Linked DNA regions of Homo sapiens: all the other regions are linked to region 4. Evidence: fine-mapped expression QTL. A gene starts in region 4. Each other region holds a variant in brackets. All regions are shown on one strand. Distances are from middle to middle. Region 1 overlaps FRMD3-AS1 (FRMD3 antisense RNA 1). Region 2 overlaps FRMD3 (FERM domain containing 3). Region 3 overlaps FRMD3-AS1 (FRMD3 antisense RNA 1). Region 4 holds the start of FRMD3 (FERM domain containing 3).

Region 1 (5,983 bases), 300 kb before region 4:
TAATCCAGAATCCAGCCCTAACTTCACACCTGAGTTTCTAGACCAACTAAACATCCCACAGGTACTTCAGGCTCACTAGATCCAAGTCTAACTCATTATCTTTGTACCAAAACAGTATTTTTTAATTAAAATTTTAAAAAAAATAATTATAAATAAAAAACACTGGCTCTATTGGAACTGAGCCTGGCTAATGACATTGTCTTTTCCCACTCACCCAAACTAGGCATTTAAAAATCAAACTTGACTCCCCCACTCTGACTCTATGCCAATTCTATCAGTCGCTGAGTCACTGTTTGACCCTACTCCAAGCTTTCCAATCTTCTCAGGAACCATGCTGATATCAAGACTGTGTCCTGTGGAATATCTAATATATGTGACACCCGGAGGAGTCATTTTTTAACACCTCCCTTCTCTATACAACAAAATTATTTTCAATAATGGCCATGAGTATGATGATAATTATGTCTTTATAATACGTGTAATTGACAATATCATACATAATTATGGATTATATATATACACAAATAATGCTCAGAAAAACAAAGCAGTGAAAATGTTCTATTAAACTATGTATAATCTTATATATAATTATATAAGTTTCTAAAATAAAAGGAAATGCCTACAACTATTTTTTATTAATTTTTATATCCACCTAAATGGCTGAACTTTGATCCTTTGGTTACAGTCTGATATATTAATATTTACGTAAATGACAGTCCAATAACTAGGTTTAAATAAAACTAAAATGTCTGCAGAAGTATAGTTTAGGCAATTACATTTTAAATTTTTTTAAATGAGATGGACTCTTGCTATGATGCGCAGGCTGATCTCAAACTCCTGAGCTCAAGCCATGCTCCCACCTCGGCCTCCAAAAGTGCTGGGATTACAGGCATGAGCCACTGCGCCCGACCTAATTTAGGCAATTACTAATGTGAGATTTTGTTTTCTTATTTGTTCTTTTGTTTGAAGACAAATAATTAACAATTAAAAAGAATACATTGCAATTTTAAAATGTTATCATATTCAGAAAATATGTATGAAATAAAATTTGCACTTATAAAACAAAAATATTACACTTCATAGTTGGCAAACATTTTAAATTTTAAATTAAAAAATTTTTAAATTGTGATTGAGTCACACTGAATGGTGAAATTAAATGAATTCAAATCCTGTTTCTTCATCTTTGCAATCACTGTGCTATCATTGTTTCTTTCTAATCTACATAGAAATAGGTCTCACCACAGGGGTTGAAGATTCAACTGCACCCAAAGCAAGATCCAGTGTTTCCAAACTGTTAGGAGCTCTTGAAATGGATGTGGGTAACCAAGGCTATTGTGCCAAGGGTTCTGAGAATCAACTTCCACATCGAACATTTATCAAAAGGTAAATAGCACAGGACAGAGGACCAGAAAAAAGAAAGTCACGCAGAGAAAGAAATCAGGAGACCTTGCATTTGTAACTTGACTATACATTTGCAATATACTCCCTACTTTGAACAACTTAGAAAAAAACATTTCTTTCTTACAAACACAGTTTCCTCCTGAAAGGAATTTTGATGTATTCTATTTTCTGATGTCTTACTATTTTGGATGTGTATCCACGTTATAGGCAACGAGATGTTTTGTTTATAAATAAATGTAGAAGAAAAATAGATGTTTTTTAGAAGCAAATTCTGGTTCTTGTTATATCTTCTGAAACTTCCAAATCCAATTTTGTTATGCATTGCCACCATGATGCTATTACTTCAGTAGAACAGGATGTCCTCAAAGAGTGAAATGGTTACGATGAGTCTAGAATGACCTGGAGGTGCCAGATTATGGGCCTTAACTCCTAGCATTTCTCAAGTAGTTACTACATGTCCAAGACTTTGCTAAGGGATTTGCAAATTCTAACTTATTTTTAAATTCCATAACAGCTCTGAGATAAGTGCTGTAGTTAAACATAATTTTAAAGATGAGGATGCCAAGAATTCAAGAGATCAAATGAGTTACCTAAAGTTACACCTAAGAAGAGCAGGAAAGCTGAGACCAGAGCTGAGGCCATCTGGCTGGAGAGCCTGAGCTCTTAGCCATCATATTACACCGACTTTCTGTTCCAGATATGCCAGCTACTTCTATCTTTATATCAGTATCTCCTAGGCAGCAATTTTATACTCTGGCCTTTTGTCATTTTTACAGAAGCACTAATAATGATGCACAAAATTATTTTGTGTAAAAAAATTAAAATTTTTGTTTTTAATAGTTTTTGTAGAATCTATTAAAATATTAATATTCATAGTTCATAAGAAAATATTAATAGTTATTTCATAATAGCTTAAGTAACTATTGAACAAAAGTTAAAAATTTATTAGAAGTAAATATCAATGGTATAAATCAAATTATTTAATCTTTATGCACAAATATTACTTATCGCTAAAATGAAACTGGGTTCAGCATTATCTATTTTTCATTTTGATAGAATTAAGTACTGACAAAACTTGCTGACAAATAGAAATGGAAAGGTTCTTGGTTATAATAAAGCTACTCAACTCGTACTCCTCACAAAATATGTTAAAAAATAACATAGTGAACCACAACAAATATAATTTTTGCTAACAGCTTTGTTGAGCTATAATTAACATACCATAAATAATGCATAAAATTCATTGGTCTTTGTTCACAGAGTCATGCGACCATCGCAACTACATAATTCAAAGAAAAATTTTATCACCCAAAAAAGAAACTCTGTACCTATTAGCAGTCATTCTTCATTCTCCCTACCCGTGGAAATCACTAATCTACTTTCTGTCTCTATAGATTTGCCTATTCTGGACATTTTATATAAATCAAATCATGCAATAGATGGCCTTTTGCTTTTGGCTTCTTTTACTTAGCATAATGTTTTCAAAGTTCATCCATGGTGTAGCGTGTACCAATACTTCATTCATTTTTATGGAATGGATACACTACATTTGTTTATGCAATTTACGAACCGATGGACATACGGGTTGTTTCCACTTCTGTGCTATTATGCAAAGTGCTGCTATGAAAATTACCC[A/AT]TTTTTTTGTGTAAATATATGTTTTCTGTTCTCTTGAGTATATACCTAAGAGTGGAATTGCTGGCTTGTATGGTAACCTTATGCTTAACTTTTTGAAGAACTACGAAACTGTTTTCCAAAGTAGCTGCACAATTTTTTTTTTTTTTAGACGGAGTCCCGCTCTTTCGCCCAGGTTGGAGTGCAGTGGCGCGATCTCGGCTCACTGCAAGCTCTGCCTCCCGGGTTCACGCCATTCTCCTGCCTCAGCCTCCGGAGTAGCTGGGACTACAGGCGCCCGCCACAGCGCCCGGCTAATTTTTTGTATTTTTAGTAGAGACGGGGTTTCACCGTGTTAGCCAGGATGATCTCGATCTCCTGACCTCGTGATCTGCCCGCCTCGGCCTCCCAAAGTGCTGGAATTACAGGTGTGAGCCACCGCGCCCAGCCTAGTAGCTGCACAATTTTACATTTTTACCAGGAATATATGAGGGTTTCAATTTATCCACATCCTCAGCAACACTTCGTGGCCTGTCTTTTTATTATAGCCATTCTTGTGGGTGTAAAGTAGAATCTCAATGTGGCACTGATTTGCATTTCTTTAATGACTAATGATATTGGACATCTTTTCGTGTGCTTACTATCCATTTGCATATTTCCTTTACCAAAATGTCTATTGTGATAACATTTCCTACTTTAAAAATTGGTTATGTTTTTTATTACTGAGTTGTAAGTATTCTTTATGTATTATGGGTACAAATTCATTATCGGATGTATGATTTAAAAATATTTTCATCCCTTCAGTGTTTTGTCTTTTCACTTTTCTTGACAGTGTCTTTTAAAGCACAAAAGTTTTTAAATTTATCTATTACTATCTAATTTACCTATTTTTTATTTTGTCTCTAGTGCTTTTGCTGTCCTTAGAAACCATCCTCTCTAATCAAAGGTTACAAAGATCTGATCTTATGTTTCTTCTAAAAGTTTTGTAAATTTTATTAAACACAAGGTCTCTGATTTATTTTGTGCTAATTTGTGTATACAGTGTGAGAAATTGGTCCAATTTTATGATTTTGCTGTTAGATATCAGTTGTTGAAAAGACTATTCTTTCCCCTTAGAATTGTCTTGTCATCTTGTTCACAATCAATTTTTCACAAATGCATAGTTTTGTTTCTGGACTCTCAGTTCTATTTTACGGATGTATATGTCTATCCTGATGTTGGTACCACACTGTCATGATTACTGCAGCTTTGCATTAGGTTCTGAAATTGGGAAGTGCGAGTCCTTCAACTTTGTTCTTTTTCAATATTATTTTGGTTAGTCTGTACCTTTTACATTTCCATATAAAATTTTAGGACCAATTTGTCAATTTCCACAAAACAGGAAGCTGACATCTGCTAGGGATTGCCTTGAATCTGAAAATCAATTTCAGGAGTATTGCTATCTTAACAATATTAAGTTTTCCATCCACGAACATGTGATGTCTTTTCATTTGTTTAGGTCTTCTTTTTTTCAGTGAAGTTTTGTTGATCACAATGTACAAGTCTTGTTACAGTCAGTAGCTAGTCAGACATGAACAGGGCAGGAAACACCAGGAATGTCAGGCGAACATCAGGTGATGGTCAGGCGGTTCTTAACTGTCTTTCTAAAATAATCGGTCACAGCCAGCACCAGGGAGAGACAATCTCCCAATAGAGAGAAAAAACCTGAAACTGGCTATCAGCAGCTTCCCAAAAAGATCTCAGGAGTTGGACAAATGGGCTCAATCATGCACAATAAGAGACAAAATGGTGGAGTTTAACTGGTACATGACCTTCCTCTACAAACTGGTAAGGGAATGCCTCAAGTGAGCATGTGTGCAATTTCAGTGAACATATTGCACATGCAGCCACATTGTGCATGCAGATAGCTCAGCCCAAGGGAAGACCCAGGGGAGAAGTAATGCAAGACCCTGGAAGCATGCCAATGTATAAAACCCCAAGTTAAAAGGTCAAACAGTGCACTTGATTTCTCAAGTCCCCTGCTTGGCCCTCTTCCAAGTGTACTTTACTTCCTGTCATTCCTGCTGTAAAGCTTTTAAATAAACTGTCACTCCTGCTCTAAATCTTGCTCAGTCTCGCACTCTGTCTTACGCCCCTCAGTTGAATTCAAGTATGATAGCTGTGGAGTTTTCAGTCTTTACTAGATTGAGGATATTTTTTTCTATTCATTGTTCATTTTTTTTTAATTGTGAAAGAGTGTTGGATTTTGTCAAGTGCATTCTCTGCGTCTGTTGAGAGGATCATGCAATTTCTGTCCTTTATTCTACTAACATGGTATATTTCACTGATTGACTTTCATGTGTTAAACAACCTTGCATTCCTGGGATAAATCCCACTTGATCAAGGTATATAATCCTTCCCATATGTTGCTGGATTCAGTTCAATTGTAATTTTTTTGTTGTTAGGGATTTTTTTCATCTATAGTCATAGGATACATTTGTCAGCACTTTTGTTTTCTTGTAATGTCTTTGGTTTTGGCATCAGAATGATACTGACCTCAGAGCATGGGGAATTGCCCCCTCCCTTCTGTTTTTTGGCAGTTTGTGAAGTGCTGTTTGTTTTTTAAGAGTTTGGTATGATTGACCAGTGTAGCTATCATCACCTGCACTTTTCATTGAAGAAATAATTTTTTATTACTAATTCAATCTTTTACTTGTTATAGATCTATTGCAATTTTCCATCTCTTTGTAAGTTAGTTTGTGTCCCTCAAGAAGTTTTTCTGTTTTGTCTAGGTTAGATAAATTGTTAATACACAACTTTTCATAGTGTTTCCTTATATTCCTTTTTATTTCTGGAAGGTCCATAATGACATCCTCTATTTCATTCCTGGTTTTAGTAATTTTAATACTGTCTTTTTACCTTGGTTAATCTAGCTAAAGGCTTGTTCATTTTATTGGCATTTTTCATTTTAAAGAACGAACTTTTGGTTTTA
Region 2 (5,983 bases), 270 kb before region 4:
GTAAACATCTTCTCCTGGGACTCAGGGCTGCCAGCATAGGCTGGCATTCTTCTTGTTCTTCTTTCCCCATCCTTAGGCTTCATCCTTGCAGACTAAACTCTCTCTTCTCCAAGTAGCCATCATTTGCCAGCCTCTTGGTTATGCCTCTACTTTTGCTGACCATCTTGACACCATGGTCAGTTGCTCTCCCCACCTGCTGAAATGGCTCTCACAAAGTCTCCAATGATCACCATATTGCTAAAGCCAATGAGTGTTTTCTTCTGTCCTCCTACAGATCACTCAACCTCTGAGGTTCCATACTCTCTTGGTTTCCATCCAATGATTCTAAGCTACCTCTGTCTTCACAGTCTCTTCACTACTTGTGAGGGCCTAAACTCTCTGCTCTTCTTGCTCTGTACCCTCTTTCTTGGTGTTTCAACCATATTTATGGCTCCAATATGCTACTACAGTATTGTTCAACCTGGTACTACAGGTCACCAGTGTCCCTTAAGGTTCTGCCAGCTGTCCCTTGAAAAGAGTGTTCCATGGTCAGCTAAGTTTGGGAAACTGCACACTCTATCACTCTTTTGGATATTACCATCAAGGTTAAAAATCCAAACTCTGAAGTCACCTTTCTGGGTTCGAATCCTGGCTTTGTACTAATTGCCACCGACAGTTTCTTAATTACCTAATTGTGCTATTCCCAGTTTCCTCATCTGTAAAATGGGGAAAATTTCAGCACATACTGCATGCAGATATTGTGTGGAGAGGAATACCTGAGTTAATACATGCAAAGTGCCTGACACTGGTAAGCACTCAATAATATTACTACTAGTATATAAAAATGTCTGCAAGGTCCTGAATAGAAGAAATCAGTTTCATGTAACTCAATATTTCTCAAATTAATTCTCCCAGAGAACATAGAACACAACTTAGTTTGGAAAATCCATGTTGCTGAATCTCTGGTCTATCTCAACTCAGAACCCTCCAATGAGATTTACCAGGCAACTGTACATAGGAACATCGACTTCAATACATCCAAACCCAAATGCATCATCTCCCTCCCAACTCTTTACCTCCAATAACACACACTATGTAGTAAATGACACCATATTTTCTTCAGTTTCTTATATCAGCAATCCAAGGATTGGCCAAAATTACTTGTTTTCATGCACTGCTCACATCTGTCATTAACTTCTGCAAACTCTGCCACCTTCTTCATTTTCAAAGTTATCCCTGCCTCTCCATTCTTATCACTTCTTAACTGGATGATAGCAATGGCTTCCTAACTGGTTTCCTTGATTTCAGTCCAGCTTATTGTAAGTTGTTTCCAGAATAATCATTTTTAAATGCCTAATTATTTATATCAGTCCTCTTCTTAAAAGGTTTCTCAGCCTTTCAGGTTAAATATTAAATTAAACTCTTTAGCCTGGTACAAAAAGCATTACTCTACCACATACGCTTCCTCCCTGCCCACCTATTGAGGGGTTCCCATATGTGTCATGCTATGTCATGCCTCTGTGTCTTTGCACAGACTGCTACTTCTTCCTGGAATGTCCTCTGCACCCAGATAGCTCTTACTCATCCTCTAAGACCCTATGTGTTATGTCCTCTGGGAAGGCTCTCCTATCCCCCACTCCCGGACTGAGATATATGCTACTTATCTGGTACTTTTCATGGTTGACTCCTTATGGCCCATTTCTCTCCAAATGATTAGTCTAAGCCAGTCGTGGTAATTCCAGTCTCTTGGTCACATTTGGTTTTAAAACGGGCATATGGGCCAACCCTGAAAATAAAAATCAAAGGGGAAGAGGGGAGGGGGCCTGAGGGGATGGATTTTTGAGAAAGGTTTTTACTTCTAAGAAGATCATCCTGGAATGGTACAGACTCCTTATCTGTTGACATTGTTGTAACTGAAAGAAACAGCAGAAACTGGCAGCCGTCCTATGGTGCTGACAGCAACGGCATGAGGGGAAGCTTGGCTGACTGAGAAGAGTGATGTAGAGATAAAATGAAACTGGTCCTCAACCCTGGAATCCTCTCTGACTCTGGACTTGTCTTGGATAATAAATCACCTTATTATTTAAACCAGTGCTAATTAGAATTCCTCATTACTTGCTGATGATGGCATCCTAAGTGATGCAGCTGTCATACCATCTTCTGGATCTCTTTATCTTCACAGTCAGTCATTACACTGTGCTGCAGATTTATTATGGGTTTTTCCACTAAAATTTTATCTCCTGAAAGGAAGGGACTTGAAATATCTACTAGAGAATTGTAGAAATCATTACATGTCATGGCAAACATTATATAATAGCAAAACGTTGGAAGAATTCCCACCAAAGTCAGGAACATTACAAAGAATTATCACCACACATCAGTATTGGCCCTAGCTAATGCAATATGATGAAGACAAAAAATAAGAAGTGTAAATATTGGAAAGTAAGGCACAAAACTCTAGTTCCAGATAATAGAATTATCTACATAGAAAAGAGATGAAAATGAAACAGGACAATTAATAAGAGTTTAAAAAGGTGTTGGAATGCAAGATCAACATATTAAAGCAGGTGGTTTACTGCATACAGAAGAGACAATATAAAAAATGATAATGGAAAGTATCATTCAAAATAGCCAAATGCACAAATTAAAACATCCATATATATCCAGGAATATCCATAA[C/T]AAGAAGCCTGGAAAACTTGCATGAGGACAATGTTAAAATATAACAAAGTAGCATAAAAGAAAATCTCAATAAATAGAAAAACATAATATTGTTCCTGAATAGTGGCCTTGATACATTGAAAATTCAGCTCTCCTCTCATTAATCTAAAATTTGATGCAATTTCAATAGAAAATCCAACACACTTTCAAAAAAGACAAATGGTAAATGTACACATTAATAATCAAAAACTTCTGGAAAATAAATCAGTGAGCACATCCAGACAATGGAATATTATTCAGTGCTAAGAAATGCCATGAAAAGCTATAGAGGAAGCTTATATGCATATTATTCAGTGAAAGAAGCCAGTCTGAAAAGACTGCATATTGTATGATTCCAACTAATTGACATTCTGAAAAAGGCAAAATTATGAATATCATAAAAAGACCAGTGGTTGCCAGGAATTAGGGGAAGAGAGAGAGAAATAGGTGGAACACAGAACTTTTAGGGCAGTCAAACTATTATGTATGATACAACAGGGGTAGATACATGCCATTAAACATTTGTCCAAACCCACAGAATGTACACCACCAAGGTGAACCCTAACGCAAACGATCAACTTTGAATAGTCATGATGTCTCAATGCAGGCTCATCAAGTGTAACAAATGTACTTCTCTTGTGTGGGATGTTGATGATGGGGGAGGCTGAGCATGTGTGAGGGAAATTCCCCATATGTGGAAAATTTCTATGCCTTCCTTTTAATTTTACTGTGAACCTAAAAATCATTCTAAAAGTATAACTTCCTTTGAAAAAAAGCAATGCAGGGGAAACCTGACCTACCTGATATTAAAACTATACTGTATAGTAATGGAGCAGGAATAATAAAAGATATAATTCAGAAATATACCCTTTAATATAATGGAAAATTTGTTTATGAAAAAGTTTTGCAAAAAGTTGCTAACCAATTGTGGGGGGAGGGGGGAAGGTATATCCCTATACCATGTCATGCACGTGTAAAAATTCCTAAGAAGATAAAGGGTTAAACTAAAAAAAAAATTAGATACCACGTGAAATTGCCAATTTTGAAGGTCATAAGCAGTTATTATCAGCAATTTCATAGAGTTCAAGTAAATGCATTAATTATGAAGAATAAAAACAGGAAACACTTTTATAATCTTGGCATGGGGAAAACTAACATAAAAACAGAAACCTAAAATATACAGAAAGCAAATAGTTTGCACATACAGAAGTTCTCTGTGCATATAAAAAGTGCCCGTGTCGGCCAGGTGCGGTGGCTCATGCCTGTAATCCCAGTACTATAGGAGGCCAAGACGGGCGGATCACGAGGTCAGGAGATTGGGATCATCCTGGCTAACACGGTGAAACCCCGTCTCTACTAAAAATACAAAAAATTAGCCGGGCGTGGTGGCAGGCGCCTGTAATATCAGCTACTCGGGAGGCTGAGGCAGGAGAATGGTGTGAACCCGGGAGGTGGAGCTTGCAGTGAGCCGAGATGGTGCCACTGCACTCCAGCCTGGGCAACAGAGCGAGACTCTTAAAAAAAAAAAAAAAAAAAAAAAAGTGCCTGTGTCATAAAGTTAACATTAAATAAAAGTTGAAAGCCAAGAACCAATTAGGAGAGAAAACATTAACATTTGTAAAATATAAAGGATTAATATTCACATTATAAAAGAAATACTACAATCTATAAGGAAAGGACAAAAACACAATAGAAATGTACTAAGTAAACAAATAGGCAGTTCTGCAAAGAAGAAATGAAAATACACAATTATTTGAAAAGATCCTCATCTTCACTGATAAAAAGGGATATGCAAATTAAAACAATGAAATCTCATTTTCCTTTCAACCATTTTGCAAAACTTTTAAGAAACTGGCCATATCAGGGTGAGTGATTATGTGGGGGAATAGTCAAGCTCATACTCACCTTGTTAGAATTTGCTTTTAGAGGATAATTTGCCCATTTCCATTAAAAGTTACAATTCGTATATCCTTCAACCCAACAATTATACTTTGAAGCATCTATTAAAGAGAAATGCCTCTGTATACATATGCATTGCAGTACCATCTGTTACAGCCAAAAAACGAGCCATAACCATTTCCAACAATAATTTGGTAATTAAATAACTGAGTTATGATATCTTTATATTACCTAATATTATCCAGCCATTTATAAAAAGGATGTATATTAATATGTATGGATATGGAAAGTCCTTCAAGTCATATGATAAAGTAAGAAAACTAATTCTGCAATAATATATCTTGAACAATCCCATTTATAAAAAAAAAAAATCCTATATCCCATGTGGCAGTATTCATAGATCAACTATTGGGAGTATTAACGGAAAGCATCTATATATTTGTTCTTTTAAAAACTCTTTTATACAAGAACACATCATGTATTATGTCATTATACAAATATAATCAATTTCGTCTCAATTCACTTAGAAGTCAGTTTCACACATGTGCATGAGATATAGCCAATTACAGACATTTTCCAGGTTGTATTTTGTGTTAATCAATTGGTAAAAACCACATTTATACATATAGCCACAGCTTCTTTCTTGCTGTAAGCTCTAACTTTTTAAGTTCCTATTTCAATTCCTATTTCCCTCAAGGACCATAAAATAACAAAATATATTTACAATGAAAAGGAAATTGGCAGAAGGTCAGTTCCAATTCTTTGGCCAATATTTTGAGTAAAGCTCTGCCTTGAGGATAAAAGTGGTGCTCCGCCTCACCCCAGCAAGCAAGCAGATCTGAGCTCTGACCCTTTCAACAATGAAAGGAGGGGGAGCGTGTTGTGATCATCCATTCTGCCTTCTCCCTAATCTTCTCATGTTATGGAACAATCTGGAGGTACACACCACCACTGCCTCCCTCTCCCTCCTGACTCACTGCTGACTAGGGTGTAATTTGTATTTATGACAACTTTATATCATTTGGAACACACCCTCCTGTTTCCCCTTTGCACTGGCTTGCTCACCCTCCTTCCCACTCGTCTCTGCTTTTCTCCCTTCCTCTCTCTCTTTTCATCCTTATCAAAAACCTCTGACACCAAATTCACCCTGGGCCTCTCTCCACCAGCAGTGAGCAGGAAGCTGGAAGCCCGCACACTTCAGGAACAGGATGACAGCCCAGGGCACCACACATACCAGTGTTACGAGCTGTGACCTTGGAGCCGAGTCTCAGCAGACGAACAAACACATTACTGTTGCAGTGGTTCACCATGTGCAATTGGAGGCTTCGTCGAGTCTGGATCTTGACCAAGCATTTTGCCATACTGGTTATTCCAATCCCCTTGGTCTCCTCGGCCTGCATGGCCCAGG
Region 3 (5,983 bases), 310 kb before region 4:
TTTGAGCCTATGTGTGTCTCTGCACGTGAGATGGGTTTCCTGAATACAGCACACTGATGGGTCTTGACTCTTTATCCAATTTGCCAGTCTGTGTCTTTTAATTGGAGCATTTAGTCCATTTCCATTTAAAGTTAATATTGTTATGTGTGAATCTGATCCTGTCATTATGATGTTAGCTGGTTATTTTGCTTGTTAGTTGATGCAGTTTCTTCCTAGTCTCGATGGTCTTTACATTTTGGCATGATTTTGCAGTGGCTGATACTGGTTGTTCCTTTCCATGTTTAGAGCTTCCTTCAGCAACTCTTTTAGGGCAGGCCTGGTGGTGACAAAATCTCTCAGCATTTGCTTGTCTGTAAAGTATTTTATTTCTCCTTCACTTATGAAGCTTAGTTTGGCTGGATATGAAATTCTGGGGTGAAAATTCTTGTCTTTAAGAATGTTGAATATTGGCCCCCACTCTCTTCTGGCTTGTAGGGTTTCTGCTGAGAGATCCGCTGTTAGTCTGATGGGCTTCCCTTTGAGGGTAATCCGACCTTTCTCTCTGGCTGCCCTTAACATTTTTTCCTTCATTTCTACTTTGGTGAATCTGACAATTATGTGTCTTGGAGTTGCTCTTCTCAAGGAGTATCTTTGTGGTGTTCTCTGTATTTCCTGAATCTGAACATTGGCCTGCCTTGCTAGATTGGGGAAGTTCTCCTGGATAATATCCTGCAGAGTGTTTTCCAACTTGGTTCCATTCTCCCCATCACTTTCAGGTACACCAATCAGACGTAGATTTGGTCTTTTCACATAGTCCCATATTTCTTGGAGGCTTTGCTCATTTCTTTTTATTCTTTTTTCTCTAAACTTCCCTTCTCGCTTCATTTCATTCATTTCATCTTCCATTGCTGGTACCCTTTCTTCCAGTTGATCGCATCAGCTCCTGAGGCTTCTGCATTCTTCACATAGTTCTCGAGCCTCGGTTTTCAGCTCCATCAGCTCCTTTAAGCACTTCTCTGTATTGGTTATTCTAGTTATACATTCTTCTAGATTTTTTTCAAAGTTGTCAACTTCTTTGCCTTTGGTCTGAATGTCCTCCCGTAGCTCAGAGTAATTTGATCGTCTGAAGCCTTCTTCTCTCAGCTCGTCCAAGTCATTCTCCATCCAGCTTTGTTCCCTTGCTGGTGAGGAACTGCGTTCCTTTGGAGGAGGAGAGGTGCTCTGCTTTTTAGAGTTTCCAGTTTTTCTGTTCTGTTTTTTCCCCATCTTTGCGGTTTTATCTACTTTTGGTCTTTGATGATGGTGATGTACAGATGGGTTTTCGGTGTGGATGTCCTTTCTGTTTGTTAGTTTTCCTTCTAACAGACAGGACCCTCAGCTGCAGGTCTGTTGGAATACCCTGCCCTGTGAGGTGTCAGTGTGCCCCTGCTGGGGGGTGCCTCCCAGTTAGGCTGCTCGGGGGTCAGGGGTCAGGGACCCACTTGAGGAGGCAGTCTGCCGGTTCTCAGATCTCCAGCTGCGTGCTGGGAGACCCATGGCTCTCTTCAAAGCTGTCAGACAGGGACATTTAAGTCTGCAGAGGTTACTGCTGTCTTTTTGTTTGTCTGTGCCCTGCCCCCAGAGGTGGAGCCTACAGAGGGAGGCAGGCCTCCTTGAGCTGTGGTGGGCTCCACCCAGTTCCAGCTTCCCAGCTGCTTTGTTTACCTGAGCAAGCCTGGGCAATGGCAGGCGCCCCTCCCCCAGCCTCGCTGCCACCTTGCAGTTTGATCTCAGACTGCTGTGCTAGCAATCAGCGAGACTCCGTGGGCGTAGGACCCTCCGAGCCAGGTGCCGGATATAATCTCATGGTGCGCTGTTTTTTAAGCCGGTCAGAAAAGCACAGTATTCAGGTGGGAGCGACCCGATTTTCCAGGTGCCGTCCGTCACCCCTTTCTTTGACTCGGAAAGGGAACTCCCTGACCCCTTGCGCTTCCCAAGTGAGGCAATGCCTCGCCCTGCTTCGGCTCACGCACGGTGCGCGCACCCACTGACCTGCGCCCACTGTCTGGCACTCCCTAGTGAGATGAACCCGGTACCTCAGATGGAAATGCAGAAATCACCCTTCTTCTGCGTCGCTCACGCTGGGAGCTGTAGACCGGAGCTGTTCCTATTCGGCCATCTTCATTTCCTCGCTATTTCTAACGCATCTGCAGTGCTTGTCCCCGCTGAAGTCTTGAACTCAAAGTCATTCAGGATGATTGGAATCCACGTCTTCCAAATTTATGTTAATGTTGACAATTTGATCTCCTTTCATGAGTCACAATGTTCATTTTTGTTATTATTTTTATTTTAGATTCAGGGGTACATGTGTAGGTTTGTTACATGGATATATTG[T/C]ATAATGGTGAAGTTTGGGCTTCAAGTGAACAAATCACCCAAATATTGAACATTCTACTCAATAGGTATAACCCATGAAATCAACCCTCACCAACCCCTCTTCCACCCTCCCCCATTTTGGAAACCCTAGTGTTTGTTGTTTCCAAATTTATGTGCATGTGTACCCATTGTTTAGCTCCCACTTGTAAGTGAGAAGACACAGTATTTGATTTTCTGTTTCTGAGTTATTTCACCTAGGATAATGGCCTCCAGCTCCATCCATGTTGCTGCAAAGGGCATAAGTTCATTCTTTTAGAAAGCTGTATAGTATTCCATGGTTTCTATATACCACATTTTCTTTATCCAATCAAACATTGATGGACACTTAGGTTGATTCCATGACTTTGCTATTGATGAACATAAATATTCTCAGTGGCATCTAGAATGGTAAATCCTTTCCAGAAGCTTTTCCATTTATCCAGATCCATCAGTGGAATCACTATCCATGGAAACTATAGCCTTCCAAAGTTTATTTATTAAATAATAAGACTTGGAATTCAAAATTACTCCTTAATCAATGGGCTACAGAATGGATGTGATGTTAGCAGGCAAGAAAACAACACTGATCTCCTTGTACATCTCCATCAGAGCTCTTGGGCGACCAAGTGCATTGTCAATTAACAGTAATATTTTTTAAAGAAATCTTCTTTTCTGAGCAGTAGGTCTCAACCGTGTGCTTAAAATATTCAGTGAGACATGATGAAAACAGATGTGCTCTCATCCAGGCTTTGTTGTTCCATTTATAAAGCACAGGCAGAGCAAATTTAGCATAATTCTTAAGGGCTCTAAGGATTTTCTAAATGGTAAACAGACATTGGATTCAACTTAAGGTCACCAGCTGCATTAGCCCCTAACAAGAGAGTCAGCCTGTCCTCTGAAGGTTTGAAATCAGGTATTGATTTCTCCTCTCTACCTGTGAAAGTTCTAGATGGCATCTTCTTCCAATAGATGACTGTTTTGTCTACATTGAAAATTGGTTGTTTAGTGTAGCCACCTTCATCAATGACCTTAGCTAGAGATCAATAACACTTGCTGCTTCACCTTGCACATTTATGTTATGGAGGCGGCTTCTTCAACTTCATGAATCAAACCATTGTTAGTTTTCAACTTTTCTTCTTCAGCTTCTGCGCCCCTCTCAGCCTTCATAGACTTGAAGATCTAGGTCCTTGCTCTGGATCAGGTTTTGGCTTAAGGGAATGTTGTGGCTGGTTTGACCTTCTATCCAAAACACTAAAACTTTTTCCATCTCAGCAGTAAGGCTGTTTTGCTTTCTTATCATTAGTATGTTCACTGGAGTAGCACTTGCAATTTTCTTTAAGAACTTTTTCTGTGCATTCACAACTTGGCTAACTGGTGCAAGAGGCCTAGCTATTGGCCTATCTCAGTTTTCAACATGTCTTCACCACTAGGCCTAATCATTTCTAGCTTTTGTTTTAAAGTGAGAGATGTGTAACTCTTCCTTACACTTGAACACTTAGAGAGGCCATTGTAGGGTAATTACTTGGCCTAATTTCAATATTGCTGTATCTCAGGGAATAGGGAGGCCTGGGGCAAAGGAGAAAGATGGGGGAACAGCTGGCAGCTGGTCAGTGAGGCAGTCAAGACACATACAACATTTACTAATTAAGTTCACTGTCTTCTGGGGGTTTGGTTCGTGGTTCCCCAAAACAACTACAATGGAACATCGAAGATCATCGATCACAGACAACCATAACAGATACAATACTAATGAGAAAATTTGAAATATTGTGAGAATTACCAAAATGTGACACAAAGACACCAAGTGAGCACATGCTATTGGAAAAATGGCGCCGACAGACTTATTGACGCAGGGTGTGCCTTCAAAGTAAAAAACAACAATATCTGCAAAGCACAATAAAGCAGAGCACAGTGGAATGAAGCATGTCTGTAAAGGAAACCTGTATGCAAGCAAAGAGGCAGAGATCAAAGGGAGCCAGTCCTACTTAAATAGAAAGTAATGTCTAAGAAGAAGATAGGGCACATGCCTTTCTCTTGTCCTTGGAGCTATTTATGGAGCTCCCCCTGGAGGAAGATAGGGCACATGCCTTTCTCTTGTCCTTGGAGCTATTTATGGAGCTCCCCCTGGAGGAACGTAGACTCTTTCCTTCAAGCTAGAATTAGCATGTCTGCAAAAGGATTTAGATGATCTGCTGCTGGTGGAGGAGTAGAGCAGTCCATGTGGACTCCCATGAAGGGAGCAATTTGCACCCAACTTAAATTTGATCTGGACACAACAAGCCAAACTTTTGGAAACTTAATCCTTTGGCAGGACCTGTGGGCTAGGGGCCCAAGACATGATGGGCATGCTGTTTAGAGAAGCCAAAAATCAGCAGTTGAAAAGAGAAACTGACTTTTGTTGCAGTTGGAACTAAAGCAACGGGCCACACCAAGAGGCCAATGGGATGGCCAACAGCTGGGTCCCAGGGACAAGATTCTGAGGCTGTGCGTCAGAAGAATTGGATGCTTGCAGCCAACTAGGATACATAAAATAGTAGAATGGAGAAGTCATGTGCCAGAGTAAATAGGGTCTTCCTAAAATGAGAGCCTCTCCTGCCATAGGGGATGTTAGAGGTAGGCATTTGGTAGCAGCAGAAAGCCTGGGATCAAGACAGATAGGTGTATTTTCATTGTGAAAAACTATAAAGCAGAACACTCTGAGAGACCCTCTGCTTAGTCCTTCTGCCCCACATTGAAGGACTTAGCATTATTCCAATTCTGAAAAATTAAAATCCAAAGTTAGCATTGGTTATTCCTGGGGAGTAAGATTATGGGTGGTTTTTATTTTGCTCTTTGTAACTTTCTTTACCAATTCTTTATCAAGCCTACTGCCATGGATCTGGATTCTTTTCATCATCAATTGTTTTAATTGGAAAGAAGGCAGAGCCTTTTTTGTAATGAAAGACCCAAATGAAGTGAATTTTAGAGAATAAGTTATAGAAATGTCTGGCCTTTTGTGTGTGTGTGTGTGTGTGTGTGTGTGTGTGTGTGTATCTGTACACACATACATAGAAAGAGAGAAAAACAGAAAGGCAAAGAACATTCCACTTCAGGAAGACTTAGCACAGTCCGGAGAAACTATCCCATGGAAGAGGAAGGAAGTTTTAGGGCTGATTGAACCCTCTGAAAAAGTGCCAATAGGGAAAAATATTTGAAGATGGCCTTGGCTATGTTTTCTATTCTATGGTCTTCTATATCACTTCTCCAACTCATGGGAACCAACTCACACTGGAAGACACAGAAGCTAAATTTGACTATGCTCTCTATCCCCCTAAATTCCCTCCTTTGGTACATTCCCTTTTCCAAAACCTTCCCTATAATTCCTTCTGCTTAAAATCACTTCCTCCACCGAAGAATATGTTTACCAAGCTCCTTGTTCAAGGCAGGGACACCTTTATAGAATATCTTTCCTAGGCCCCATAGTTGACTGAATCTCTGAGACCCAGGTTAGCCTTCTACCAACAATCCTGACCACATGCTCAGCAGCATGGCGGCCACTGGAATAGGAATCACTGGTATGTCCCTGCCCCACTACTGCCCTAGCTTGGGCCTTCCTCCCCTCCTTCAGATAGCT
Region 4 (5,983 bases):
ATGTCTGGAAATTTCATTGAAACTTCAGCTATTTTAACTATGGGGTAATATGTCAAAGACATACATAAGCTTTGGATCCAGACAATTCTGGATTTGAATTCCAGCTGCTCATTCTCTTTTTAGAGATGTGGCCTTGAACAAGTCACTTAAGTTATTAGCTTCTCAGTTTTCTTACCCAAAAGAAGGGAATAATACCTACTCAAAGGTTGGTGGTAGAGATCAGACATAATGAGTGGAAAAGGCTGGCTCATGAGAGATGCTCAAGAAATGGCACCTAGAGCTATTCACATTGTCTCAAGCAATAGTCCTGAAGGTTTCTATCATCTCTTGCATCTACCATGTGTGGCCACTCTCCAGCACCTTGCTAGAGAAACCTGTTTGAGTGGCTCATTTTTCTTTGAATCTGGAATGCTTACCTACTAGAGAACACAGACTAATGAGCTCCCAAGGATGTGTGGCTTGAGTTTCCCCTACTTATTTTGGGGCTCCATAGGCAGCACTCCTGTAGTGAACAGGAGTGAACAACTAACACATGTCCAAGAGCTCCTGCTCCTCCTACAGAGCCTCTAGATCAAGCTCATCCAACCCATGGCCCAGGACAGCTTTGGATGCAGCCCAACAGAAATTCATAAACTTTCTTAAAACATTATGAGACTTTTTGTGATTTTTTTTTTTTTAGCTCATCAGCTATCGTTAGCGTTAGTGTATTTTATGTGTGGCCCAAGACAATTCTTCTTCTTCCAATGTGGCCCAGGGAAGCCAGAAAATTGGACACCCCTGCTCCAGAGCCAGGCAGACACCAGGGATGAGAGCTCCTAACGCAGACAGGCAGATGTGGGCTATGGAGAGAGGGTGACATTCTGTGACAATATATACAATCCTTTAACTTTGTAGTTCTATAGAAGGAAGGAAGCAAACACAGATGGATTCACCCAGAACAAGTGCCAGTAATTCCAAATGGTTTTGTTTCGCATTGTTTTTTAATCCTTTTGTTCTCACTCTAAGCAAATGGGAAGTCTTTGTTACCTGATACCCGGAAGGGCAATTTCAATTCCTGGTCTGGAGTACTCTAGGAAAGTGTGAGGTCTAAAGTTATCCAAATAAAATATTTTAATTTATTTTAATTGGTTAAATAATAATTGTAATTTGGGGGCAGAAAGGGCAGAAAAAGACAAATCACAAAATGAAACATCATAATTTTTTAAAAATCAGTGCCCAAGCCAACATTTTGAAACATAACATTTTAACCTCTTTGGCACTAGTTGGGTCATAAGCACTGGAGTTTTTCAAACTGTTGTTAGACTGGCTACAATTTATTGTTTCTCAAAACACAAGACAACAAATACATGTCCTTTGGGGAATATTTATTATTCTAAGGAAGACTTCATCCTGAGGGAGGGGAAAAAAATGTCAACACCAAGTGGTACAGGGCAGAAGAGGGCTGAGAGACAGAGGAGAACTCAACAGCCTCTCTCCCTGACGGCCCCTCCATCATCTACACATTCATTATGGGTTAAAGGACCTGTACACCCACTTTAGGACTTAAAGCAAAGTGCACAGTCCACACTCTCTGGATCACAAGACTATTAGTACATGCCAGATGCTTCTGTGCAACCCTTGTGGCAGTAGAAACACTGCCTATCCTGCTAATCCTTTTATTATTAAGTTTAGCAGTGCTGCTTAGCTCAGAATGAAATTCAAGCTCCCCCAGAAAATTCAATGGGAGCCTACTTTCCTGGGAGATCATGGGGCATCACATTCCTACCTTGACACTTGTCCGGCTGTCAGGTTACAAATTAATTGCAACTGCCCCCAACATGTCACACACTCCCACTAACAAAAATTAAATAAAAATAAAACAGGGAAAGTCCTTTCATTCCTTCATGGTTTGCACAGCCTAGAGGCTGATTCCTACTCTGGGAGATGCTGCCCCACTCACCTCCCACTGACATGGGTGGTGTGCCCTGTATTACACTAAAAAAAAAAAAAAAAAAAAAAAGCTCAGTCCCAGAGCCTCAAGACTCGACTAGGGTAGGTGAGAAAGGAAATCCCAGAGATAAACAGTTAAATAGATTTAGAAGTCAGAAGTTAATTGTGCTGAGCCCTGACACAACCTTTCCTGATTGTGTGCGCACCGAGTGGGGCATCTTTGGGGTCCTGGAAGAGGGGCTCCCACCTGCCTACATATTCACCCACAGCAAATATGCACACGCACGCGCAACCACATGCACACACACACCTTTGCACCTCACACTAGCTCTCCTGACAGCCCAGAGGCACTTACTACCCGAGGACAGGGCTGCCAGCAAAGCTGCCTTCTCCCAAACAACTCGCCTTCTCCTCCAACTTGGGCGACAGTGAATGTCCACCAAGATTCCACGGGGCTCTTTTACCCAGGACCCAGGTTCCTGCAGGGCTCCCCACTTGCTGGCCTCACAATCCCTTTTCCTTTCTCCGAAACACTCAGACTTCACACATTCCTTTCGAGGTAGCTCCAGTCCGGCGCAGCGCGCGCTCCATCCCTCAAGGCTGGCGCCCAGGGCAGCCCGGCCTCTCTCACTCTGGGGAAACTTCGCCACCGCCCCACGCGGAGAACTAAAGACCACCGGCGGAGGGTGAGGGGGACCGACACGGAGCGGAAAGCAGGTTCCGGGACTGAGGGCGTCTCCGGAGCCTGGGCGCGGGAGACAGAAATGAGTGAACCCAGCTGATGCATGCCTTCTCCACGTGGAAGAAGGGAGGAAATACCAGTGGGCGACATGCAGGTGCCCCTCTCAGCCCTCGGAGCTCCCATCTCCTGGCGGAGTAGGGCCCAGAGGGGCCAGAGTCCCTCCGGAGGCAGCTGCCCCGCGCCCCTAGCCCGGGCGCAGTGAGACGCGCGCGCAGGGTGCACGCGAGGGGAAGGAGACTGGGCGCGGATAACGCGTGCCTGGCGCTTGCAGGGCACCATGCCCCTCCATGCCAGGATAAGGCCCCCCACCCTCAGAGGCCTGAGGAATCGAAATCTGGCTTTCTAGCAGTCCCCCAATCCCCTCCGGGAGTGGGTTCCTTGTTCTCGCATGCCCACCGCAAAGGCCCCCCGCCCTGCTCCCGGCGTGTGCCCCGCGCCCTCGCCCGGTTCCACGCGCACCTGGATGTGGCAGGAGATCTCCGAGTCGTCCAGCAGCCGGATGGTGCATCTCATCTCCTGGCTGAGCGATTTGACGCTGGAGCTCCGAAAGTGGATCATTTTCATGGTCCTCCTGCCTCTCGGCACACAGTGGCAGGAGGCGAACATGCACCGCGGCCGTGGGGAGCGAGCGGGAGGCTCAGGGCCGGCGCGGTGCTCGCCTGCGCGGACACACACGCTCGCACGCACTGTCCGGGACACCTGGGCGCGGCTCAGCCCCGGGACATCGGCAGCGTCGGGCGCCTGCGGACACACATGCCCAGCGGCCGGGGCGCGGCGGGCGGGTCCCTCCCTCTGTTCGCTCGCCTCCGCCTCGCCCCCTCCTTTCCCCGCCTCCTTCTGTCGCGCGCGCTCGTGCGCCTCCCTCTGCCCGGGCTCGCTCGCCGAGGACGCCCAGAGCCTGAGACCCCCGGCGGGCTCGCGACGCACTCACTCCCACGCGCGCCGAGCAGCTGAAGGAGGAGGCGGAGGGATGGCTGGCGCGGCTGGCCCGGGTGCCCTGGTGGTGGCCTGCTCAGTCGCAGCCGCCGCTGCGTCAAGCTGGGCCCGACTGCCTTCCTCAGCCTCACCGCCTCCTCCCTCCCCTGGCCGCTGTCGCTCGGGCTCCCGGTTGTGCTCGTCCCGGCCCCGGCTCCCCAACGCGCTCGACAGCGCCCTGCTCTGCTCAGCTCCAGGGACCTGGCGCGGGTAGGGGACGGAGAGCGATCCTGACCCACACCGCCAGGGGGATTCCGCCTCGGGAAAGGATTGCTGGGCCCAGGGCGAGTGACAGAGAGAGTGACAGCCCTGACACGGCTACACCAGGAATATCGCTAATAGTAAAAATCTCTGGTACTCATGGAGATTGTTTAAGCCATTGTTTTATTTAATGCTAGCTAGGACTCAGTCTCTTTCTCCAAAAAAGAGCCTTCCATGTGCAAATCCTCCTTTAAATCTCCCAACATCTTAGTGTGATCTTTGATAGCATACCTTTGACCCGAGCAAGAGGGATAGGTTCCTATCCTACTCCCCTGCTTTACAGACCTCCTCCAGTTCCCGGTTGCTCAGGAATTAAGAGGTCTAATGGCAAAGCGGATGTGCCCCATCCCGTTTTAGTCCAATCTCTGGGTATTGAGGACTCTGGAATTCCCCACGCGCCTCCAGGGTGTTGAAGGTAGGAGGTATCCTGCCTCTCTGTTGTCCCCAAGGTGGCTAGAGCCACTGTGTCAGGTACCGTAGGCCCGAGAGTGGCCAGGAGCAGCTGTTGAGTCAGGGGTATGGAGCTTGAATGTGAGCACTAGAATGTCCAGGAGCTGGGAGAGATGGAAGTCCTCTCACCCTGTTGCTCTTGCCGGAGCAGAACAGGTCATTAGGAAGGAACATTTGTTAGAAGAGGAGGTGTTGACCAGCTGTCAGCTTTTTCAAGGTTTGTGCCTGCATAGAGTCCCCTCATCCAAAGATATGCCCTGTCCTGGGGGTCGAGGAAGAGTGGCACACAAATTTTACCTGCCCTGGACAGTCTGGTGGGCCATATATTCTCTAGGACACCTAGTGGGGTTGGCTAAGGTTTGGGGGAGTCCGCATTGCATTTGGACTTCTCTCTCTGCCTGCTCCTGCCTCCTCTCCCTGTTGATCACTAATAAATACCACACAGGACAAACTCAGTCTCAGTATCTGCTCCTGGAAATTCCAAATTGCAACAATTTGTCAAGATAGGAGGATAGAGAATGTTTTATGTAGCACTCAATAGCTGACTATTGCTTATGAATATTTAGATGATAGTATGGGGCATTCATGTAGGCTCTTGAGCTGGGCCCTTCAAATGTTAGGGCAGATCCTGATGGAGAGGTCAGTATTGAGGGTATGGGAAGATGTGGATTTCATTCTTGGCCCAGCTACTGGCTAATCCTGGGGATCTTTGAAAAGTCTCTCCATTTCTTTTCTCATTTCAAAGGAGAGAACACCTGTTCATCCCACAGGTGGCTGGGAAGCTGGTATGACACCGGGTCAGTGGAGGACATCTTACAGCTGTAATCTGTAAATCCCCATATGCACATATGAGGTGGCAGGGATGGGACCTGCCCCAAGTTGAAAACTGGATCATCTCTGCTAGCCAAAAGAGCAGACAGCCCAGAGATCAAAGAAAAGTCACCAGCCAAACAGTCCATGCTTTTCTTTTAAGACCACACACACACTTGTCCATCCTATTATAGTGACCGTTAGGCTCCAAAAGAGTCATATCAATACCCAAAAATTGTTACCCCAAATTCCAAGGAAGCAAAATAAGACCAACAAGGACAGTAGTGAAAAAGACAGAATAAAGATAACCCAATGTGGGACTGTAAGAAACAGAATTTTGAAGAAATGAGAAGAATCTGAGATTGGTTGTCTGGCCTGATTAGGAATAAAGGCTGAGATTCAACTAGTATGAAAATACAGGCTCTGGAAGCACTTGGCATGACAGCTAGGTAAATTACCAAGTATGGTCACCTGGATTGAACTACCCAATGAAGACAAGGCTCTGGGAAACCAACTGGCCATTGTCAACAATAATAATAATAATATGAAGATTAGGAAGAACTCAAAGAATGAACTCAAGGGATGAGTTTAAAACTGGACCACTGAAAGAAAAGTAGTGATGCACTAAGTCCTAAATTATCAGCTTATGACTTTTAAACAACTGTATTTTTACAAACAACAGAGCTCAAAGAATATCTTGTTAATTGAGCCACAAGGCCAAAACTGAAAAACCAAATTCACAATTTCATCTACAAATCGCCAAATTACAAAGTCAATTGAATTATCGGCCTCACAAGATTTTATAATTATCAGCAG

The links. PIP is the estimated chance that this variant, and not a neighbour inherited with it, causes the effect.
Region 1: its variant is the best candidate, but not a certain one, in a credible set for the expression of FRMD3 in atrial appendage (GTEx, PIP 0.58).
Region 2: its variant is the best candidate, but not a certain one, in a credible set for the expression of FRMD3 in whole blood (INTERVAL, PIP 0.83).
Region 3: its variant is the best candidate, but not a certain one, in a credible set for the expression of FRMD3 in left ventricle (GTEx, PIP 0.70).

The regions. Positions count from the first base shown.
Region 1 is chr9:83,234,439-83,240,421 of GRCh38, forward strand. All of the region lies in intron 2 of FRMD3-AS1 (FRMD3 antisense RNA 1), which reads left to right. Among named protein-coding and RNA genes, the nearest start is that of FRMD3-AS1, 18 kb to the left of the region's middle. The variant A/AT (reference allele first, on the strand shown) is at 3,037.
Region 2 is chr9:83,261,203-83,267,185 of GRCh38, forward strand. The region is part of intron 13 of FRMD3 (FERM domain containing 3); the gene reads right to left. The region is part of intron 2 of FRMD3-AS1 (FRMD3 antisense RNA 1); the gene reads left to right. Among named protein-coding and RNA genes, the nearest start is that of FRMD3-AS1, 45 kb to the left of the region's middle. The variant C/T (reference allele first, on the strand shown) is at 2,659.
Region 3 is chr9:83,226,810-83,232,792 of GRCh38, forward strand. The region is part of intron 1 of FRMD3-AS1 (FRMD3 antisense RNA 1); the gene reads left to right. Among named protein-coding and RNA genes, the nearest start is that of FRMD3-AS1, 10 kb to the left of the region's middle. RefSeq lists an enhancer at 959-1,660. The variant T/C (reference allele first, on the strand shown) is at 2,353.
Region 4 is chr9:83,534,955-83,540,937 of GRCh38, forward strand. FRMD3 (FERM domain containing 3) reads right to left here and starts at 3,447. Exons shown (of 14, transcript NM_174938.6): 1 at 3,131-3,447. The coding sequence starts at 3,277. RefSeq lists a silencer at 1,400-1,694.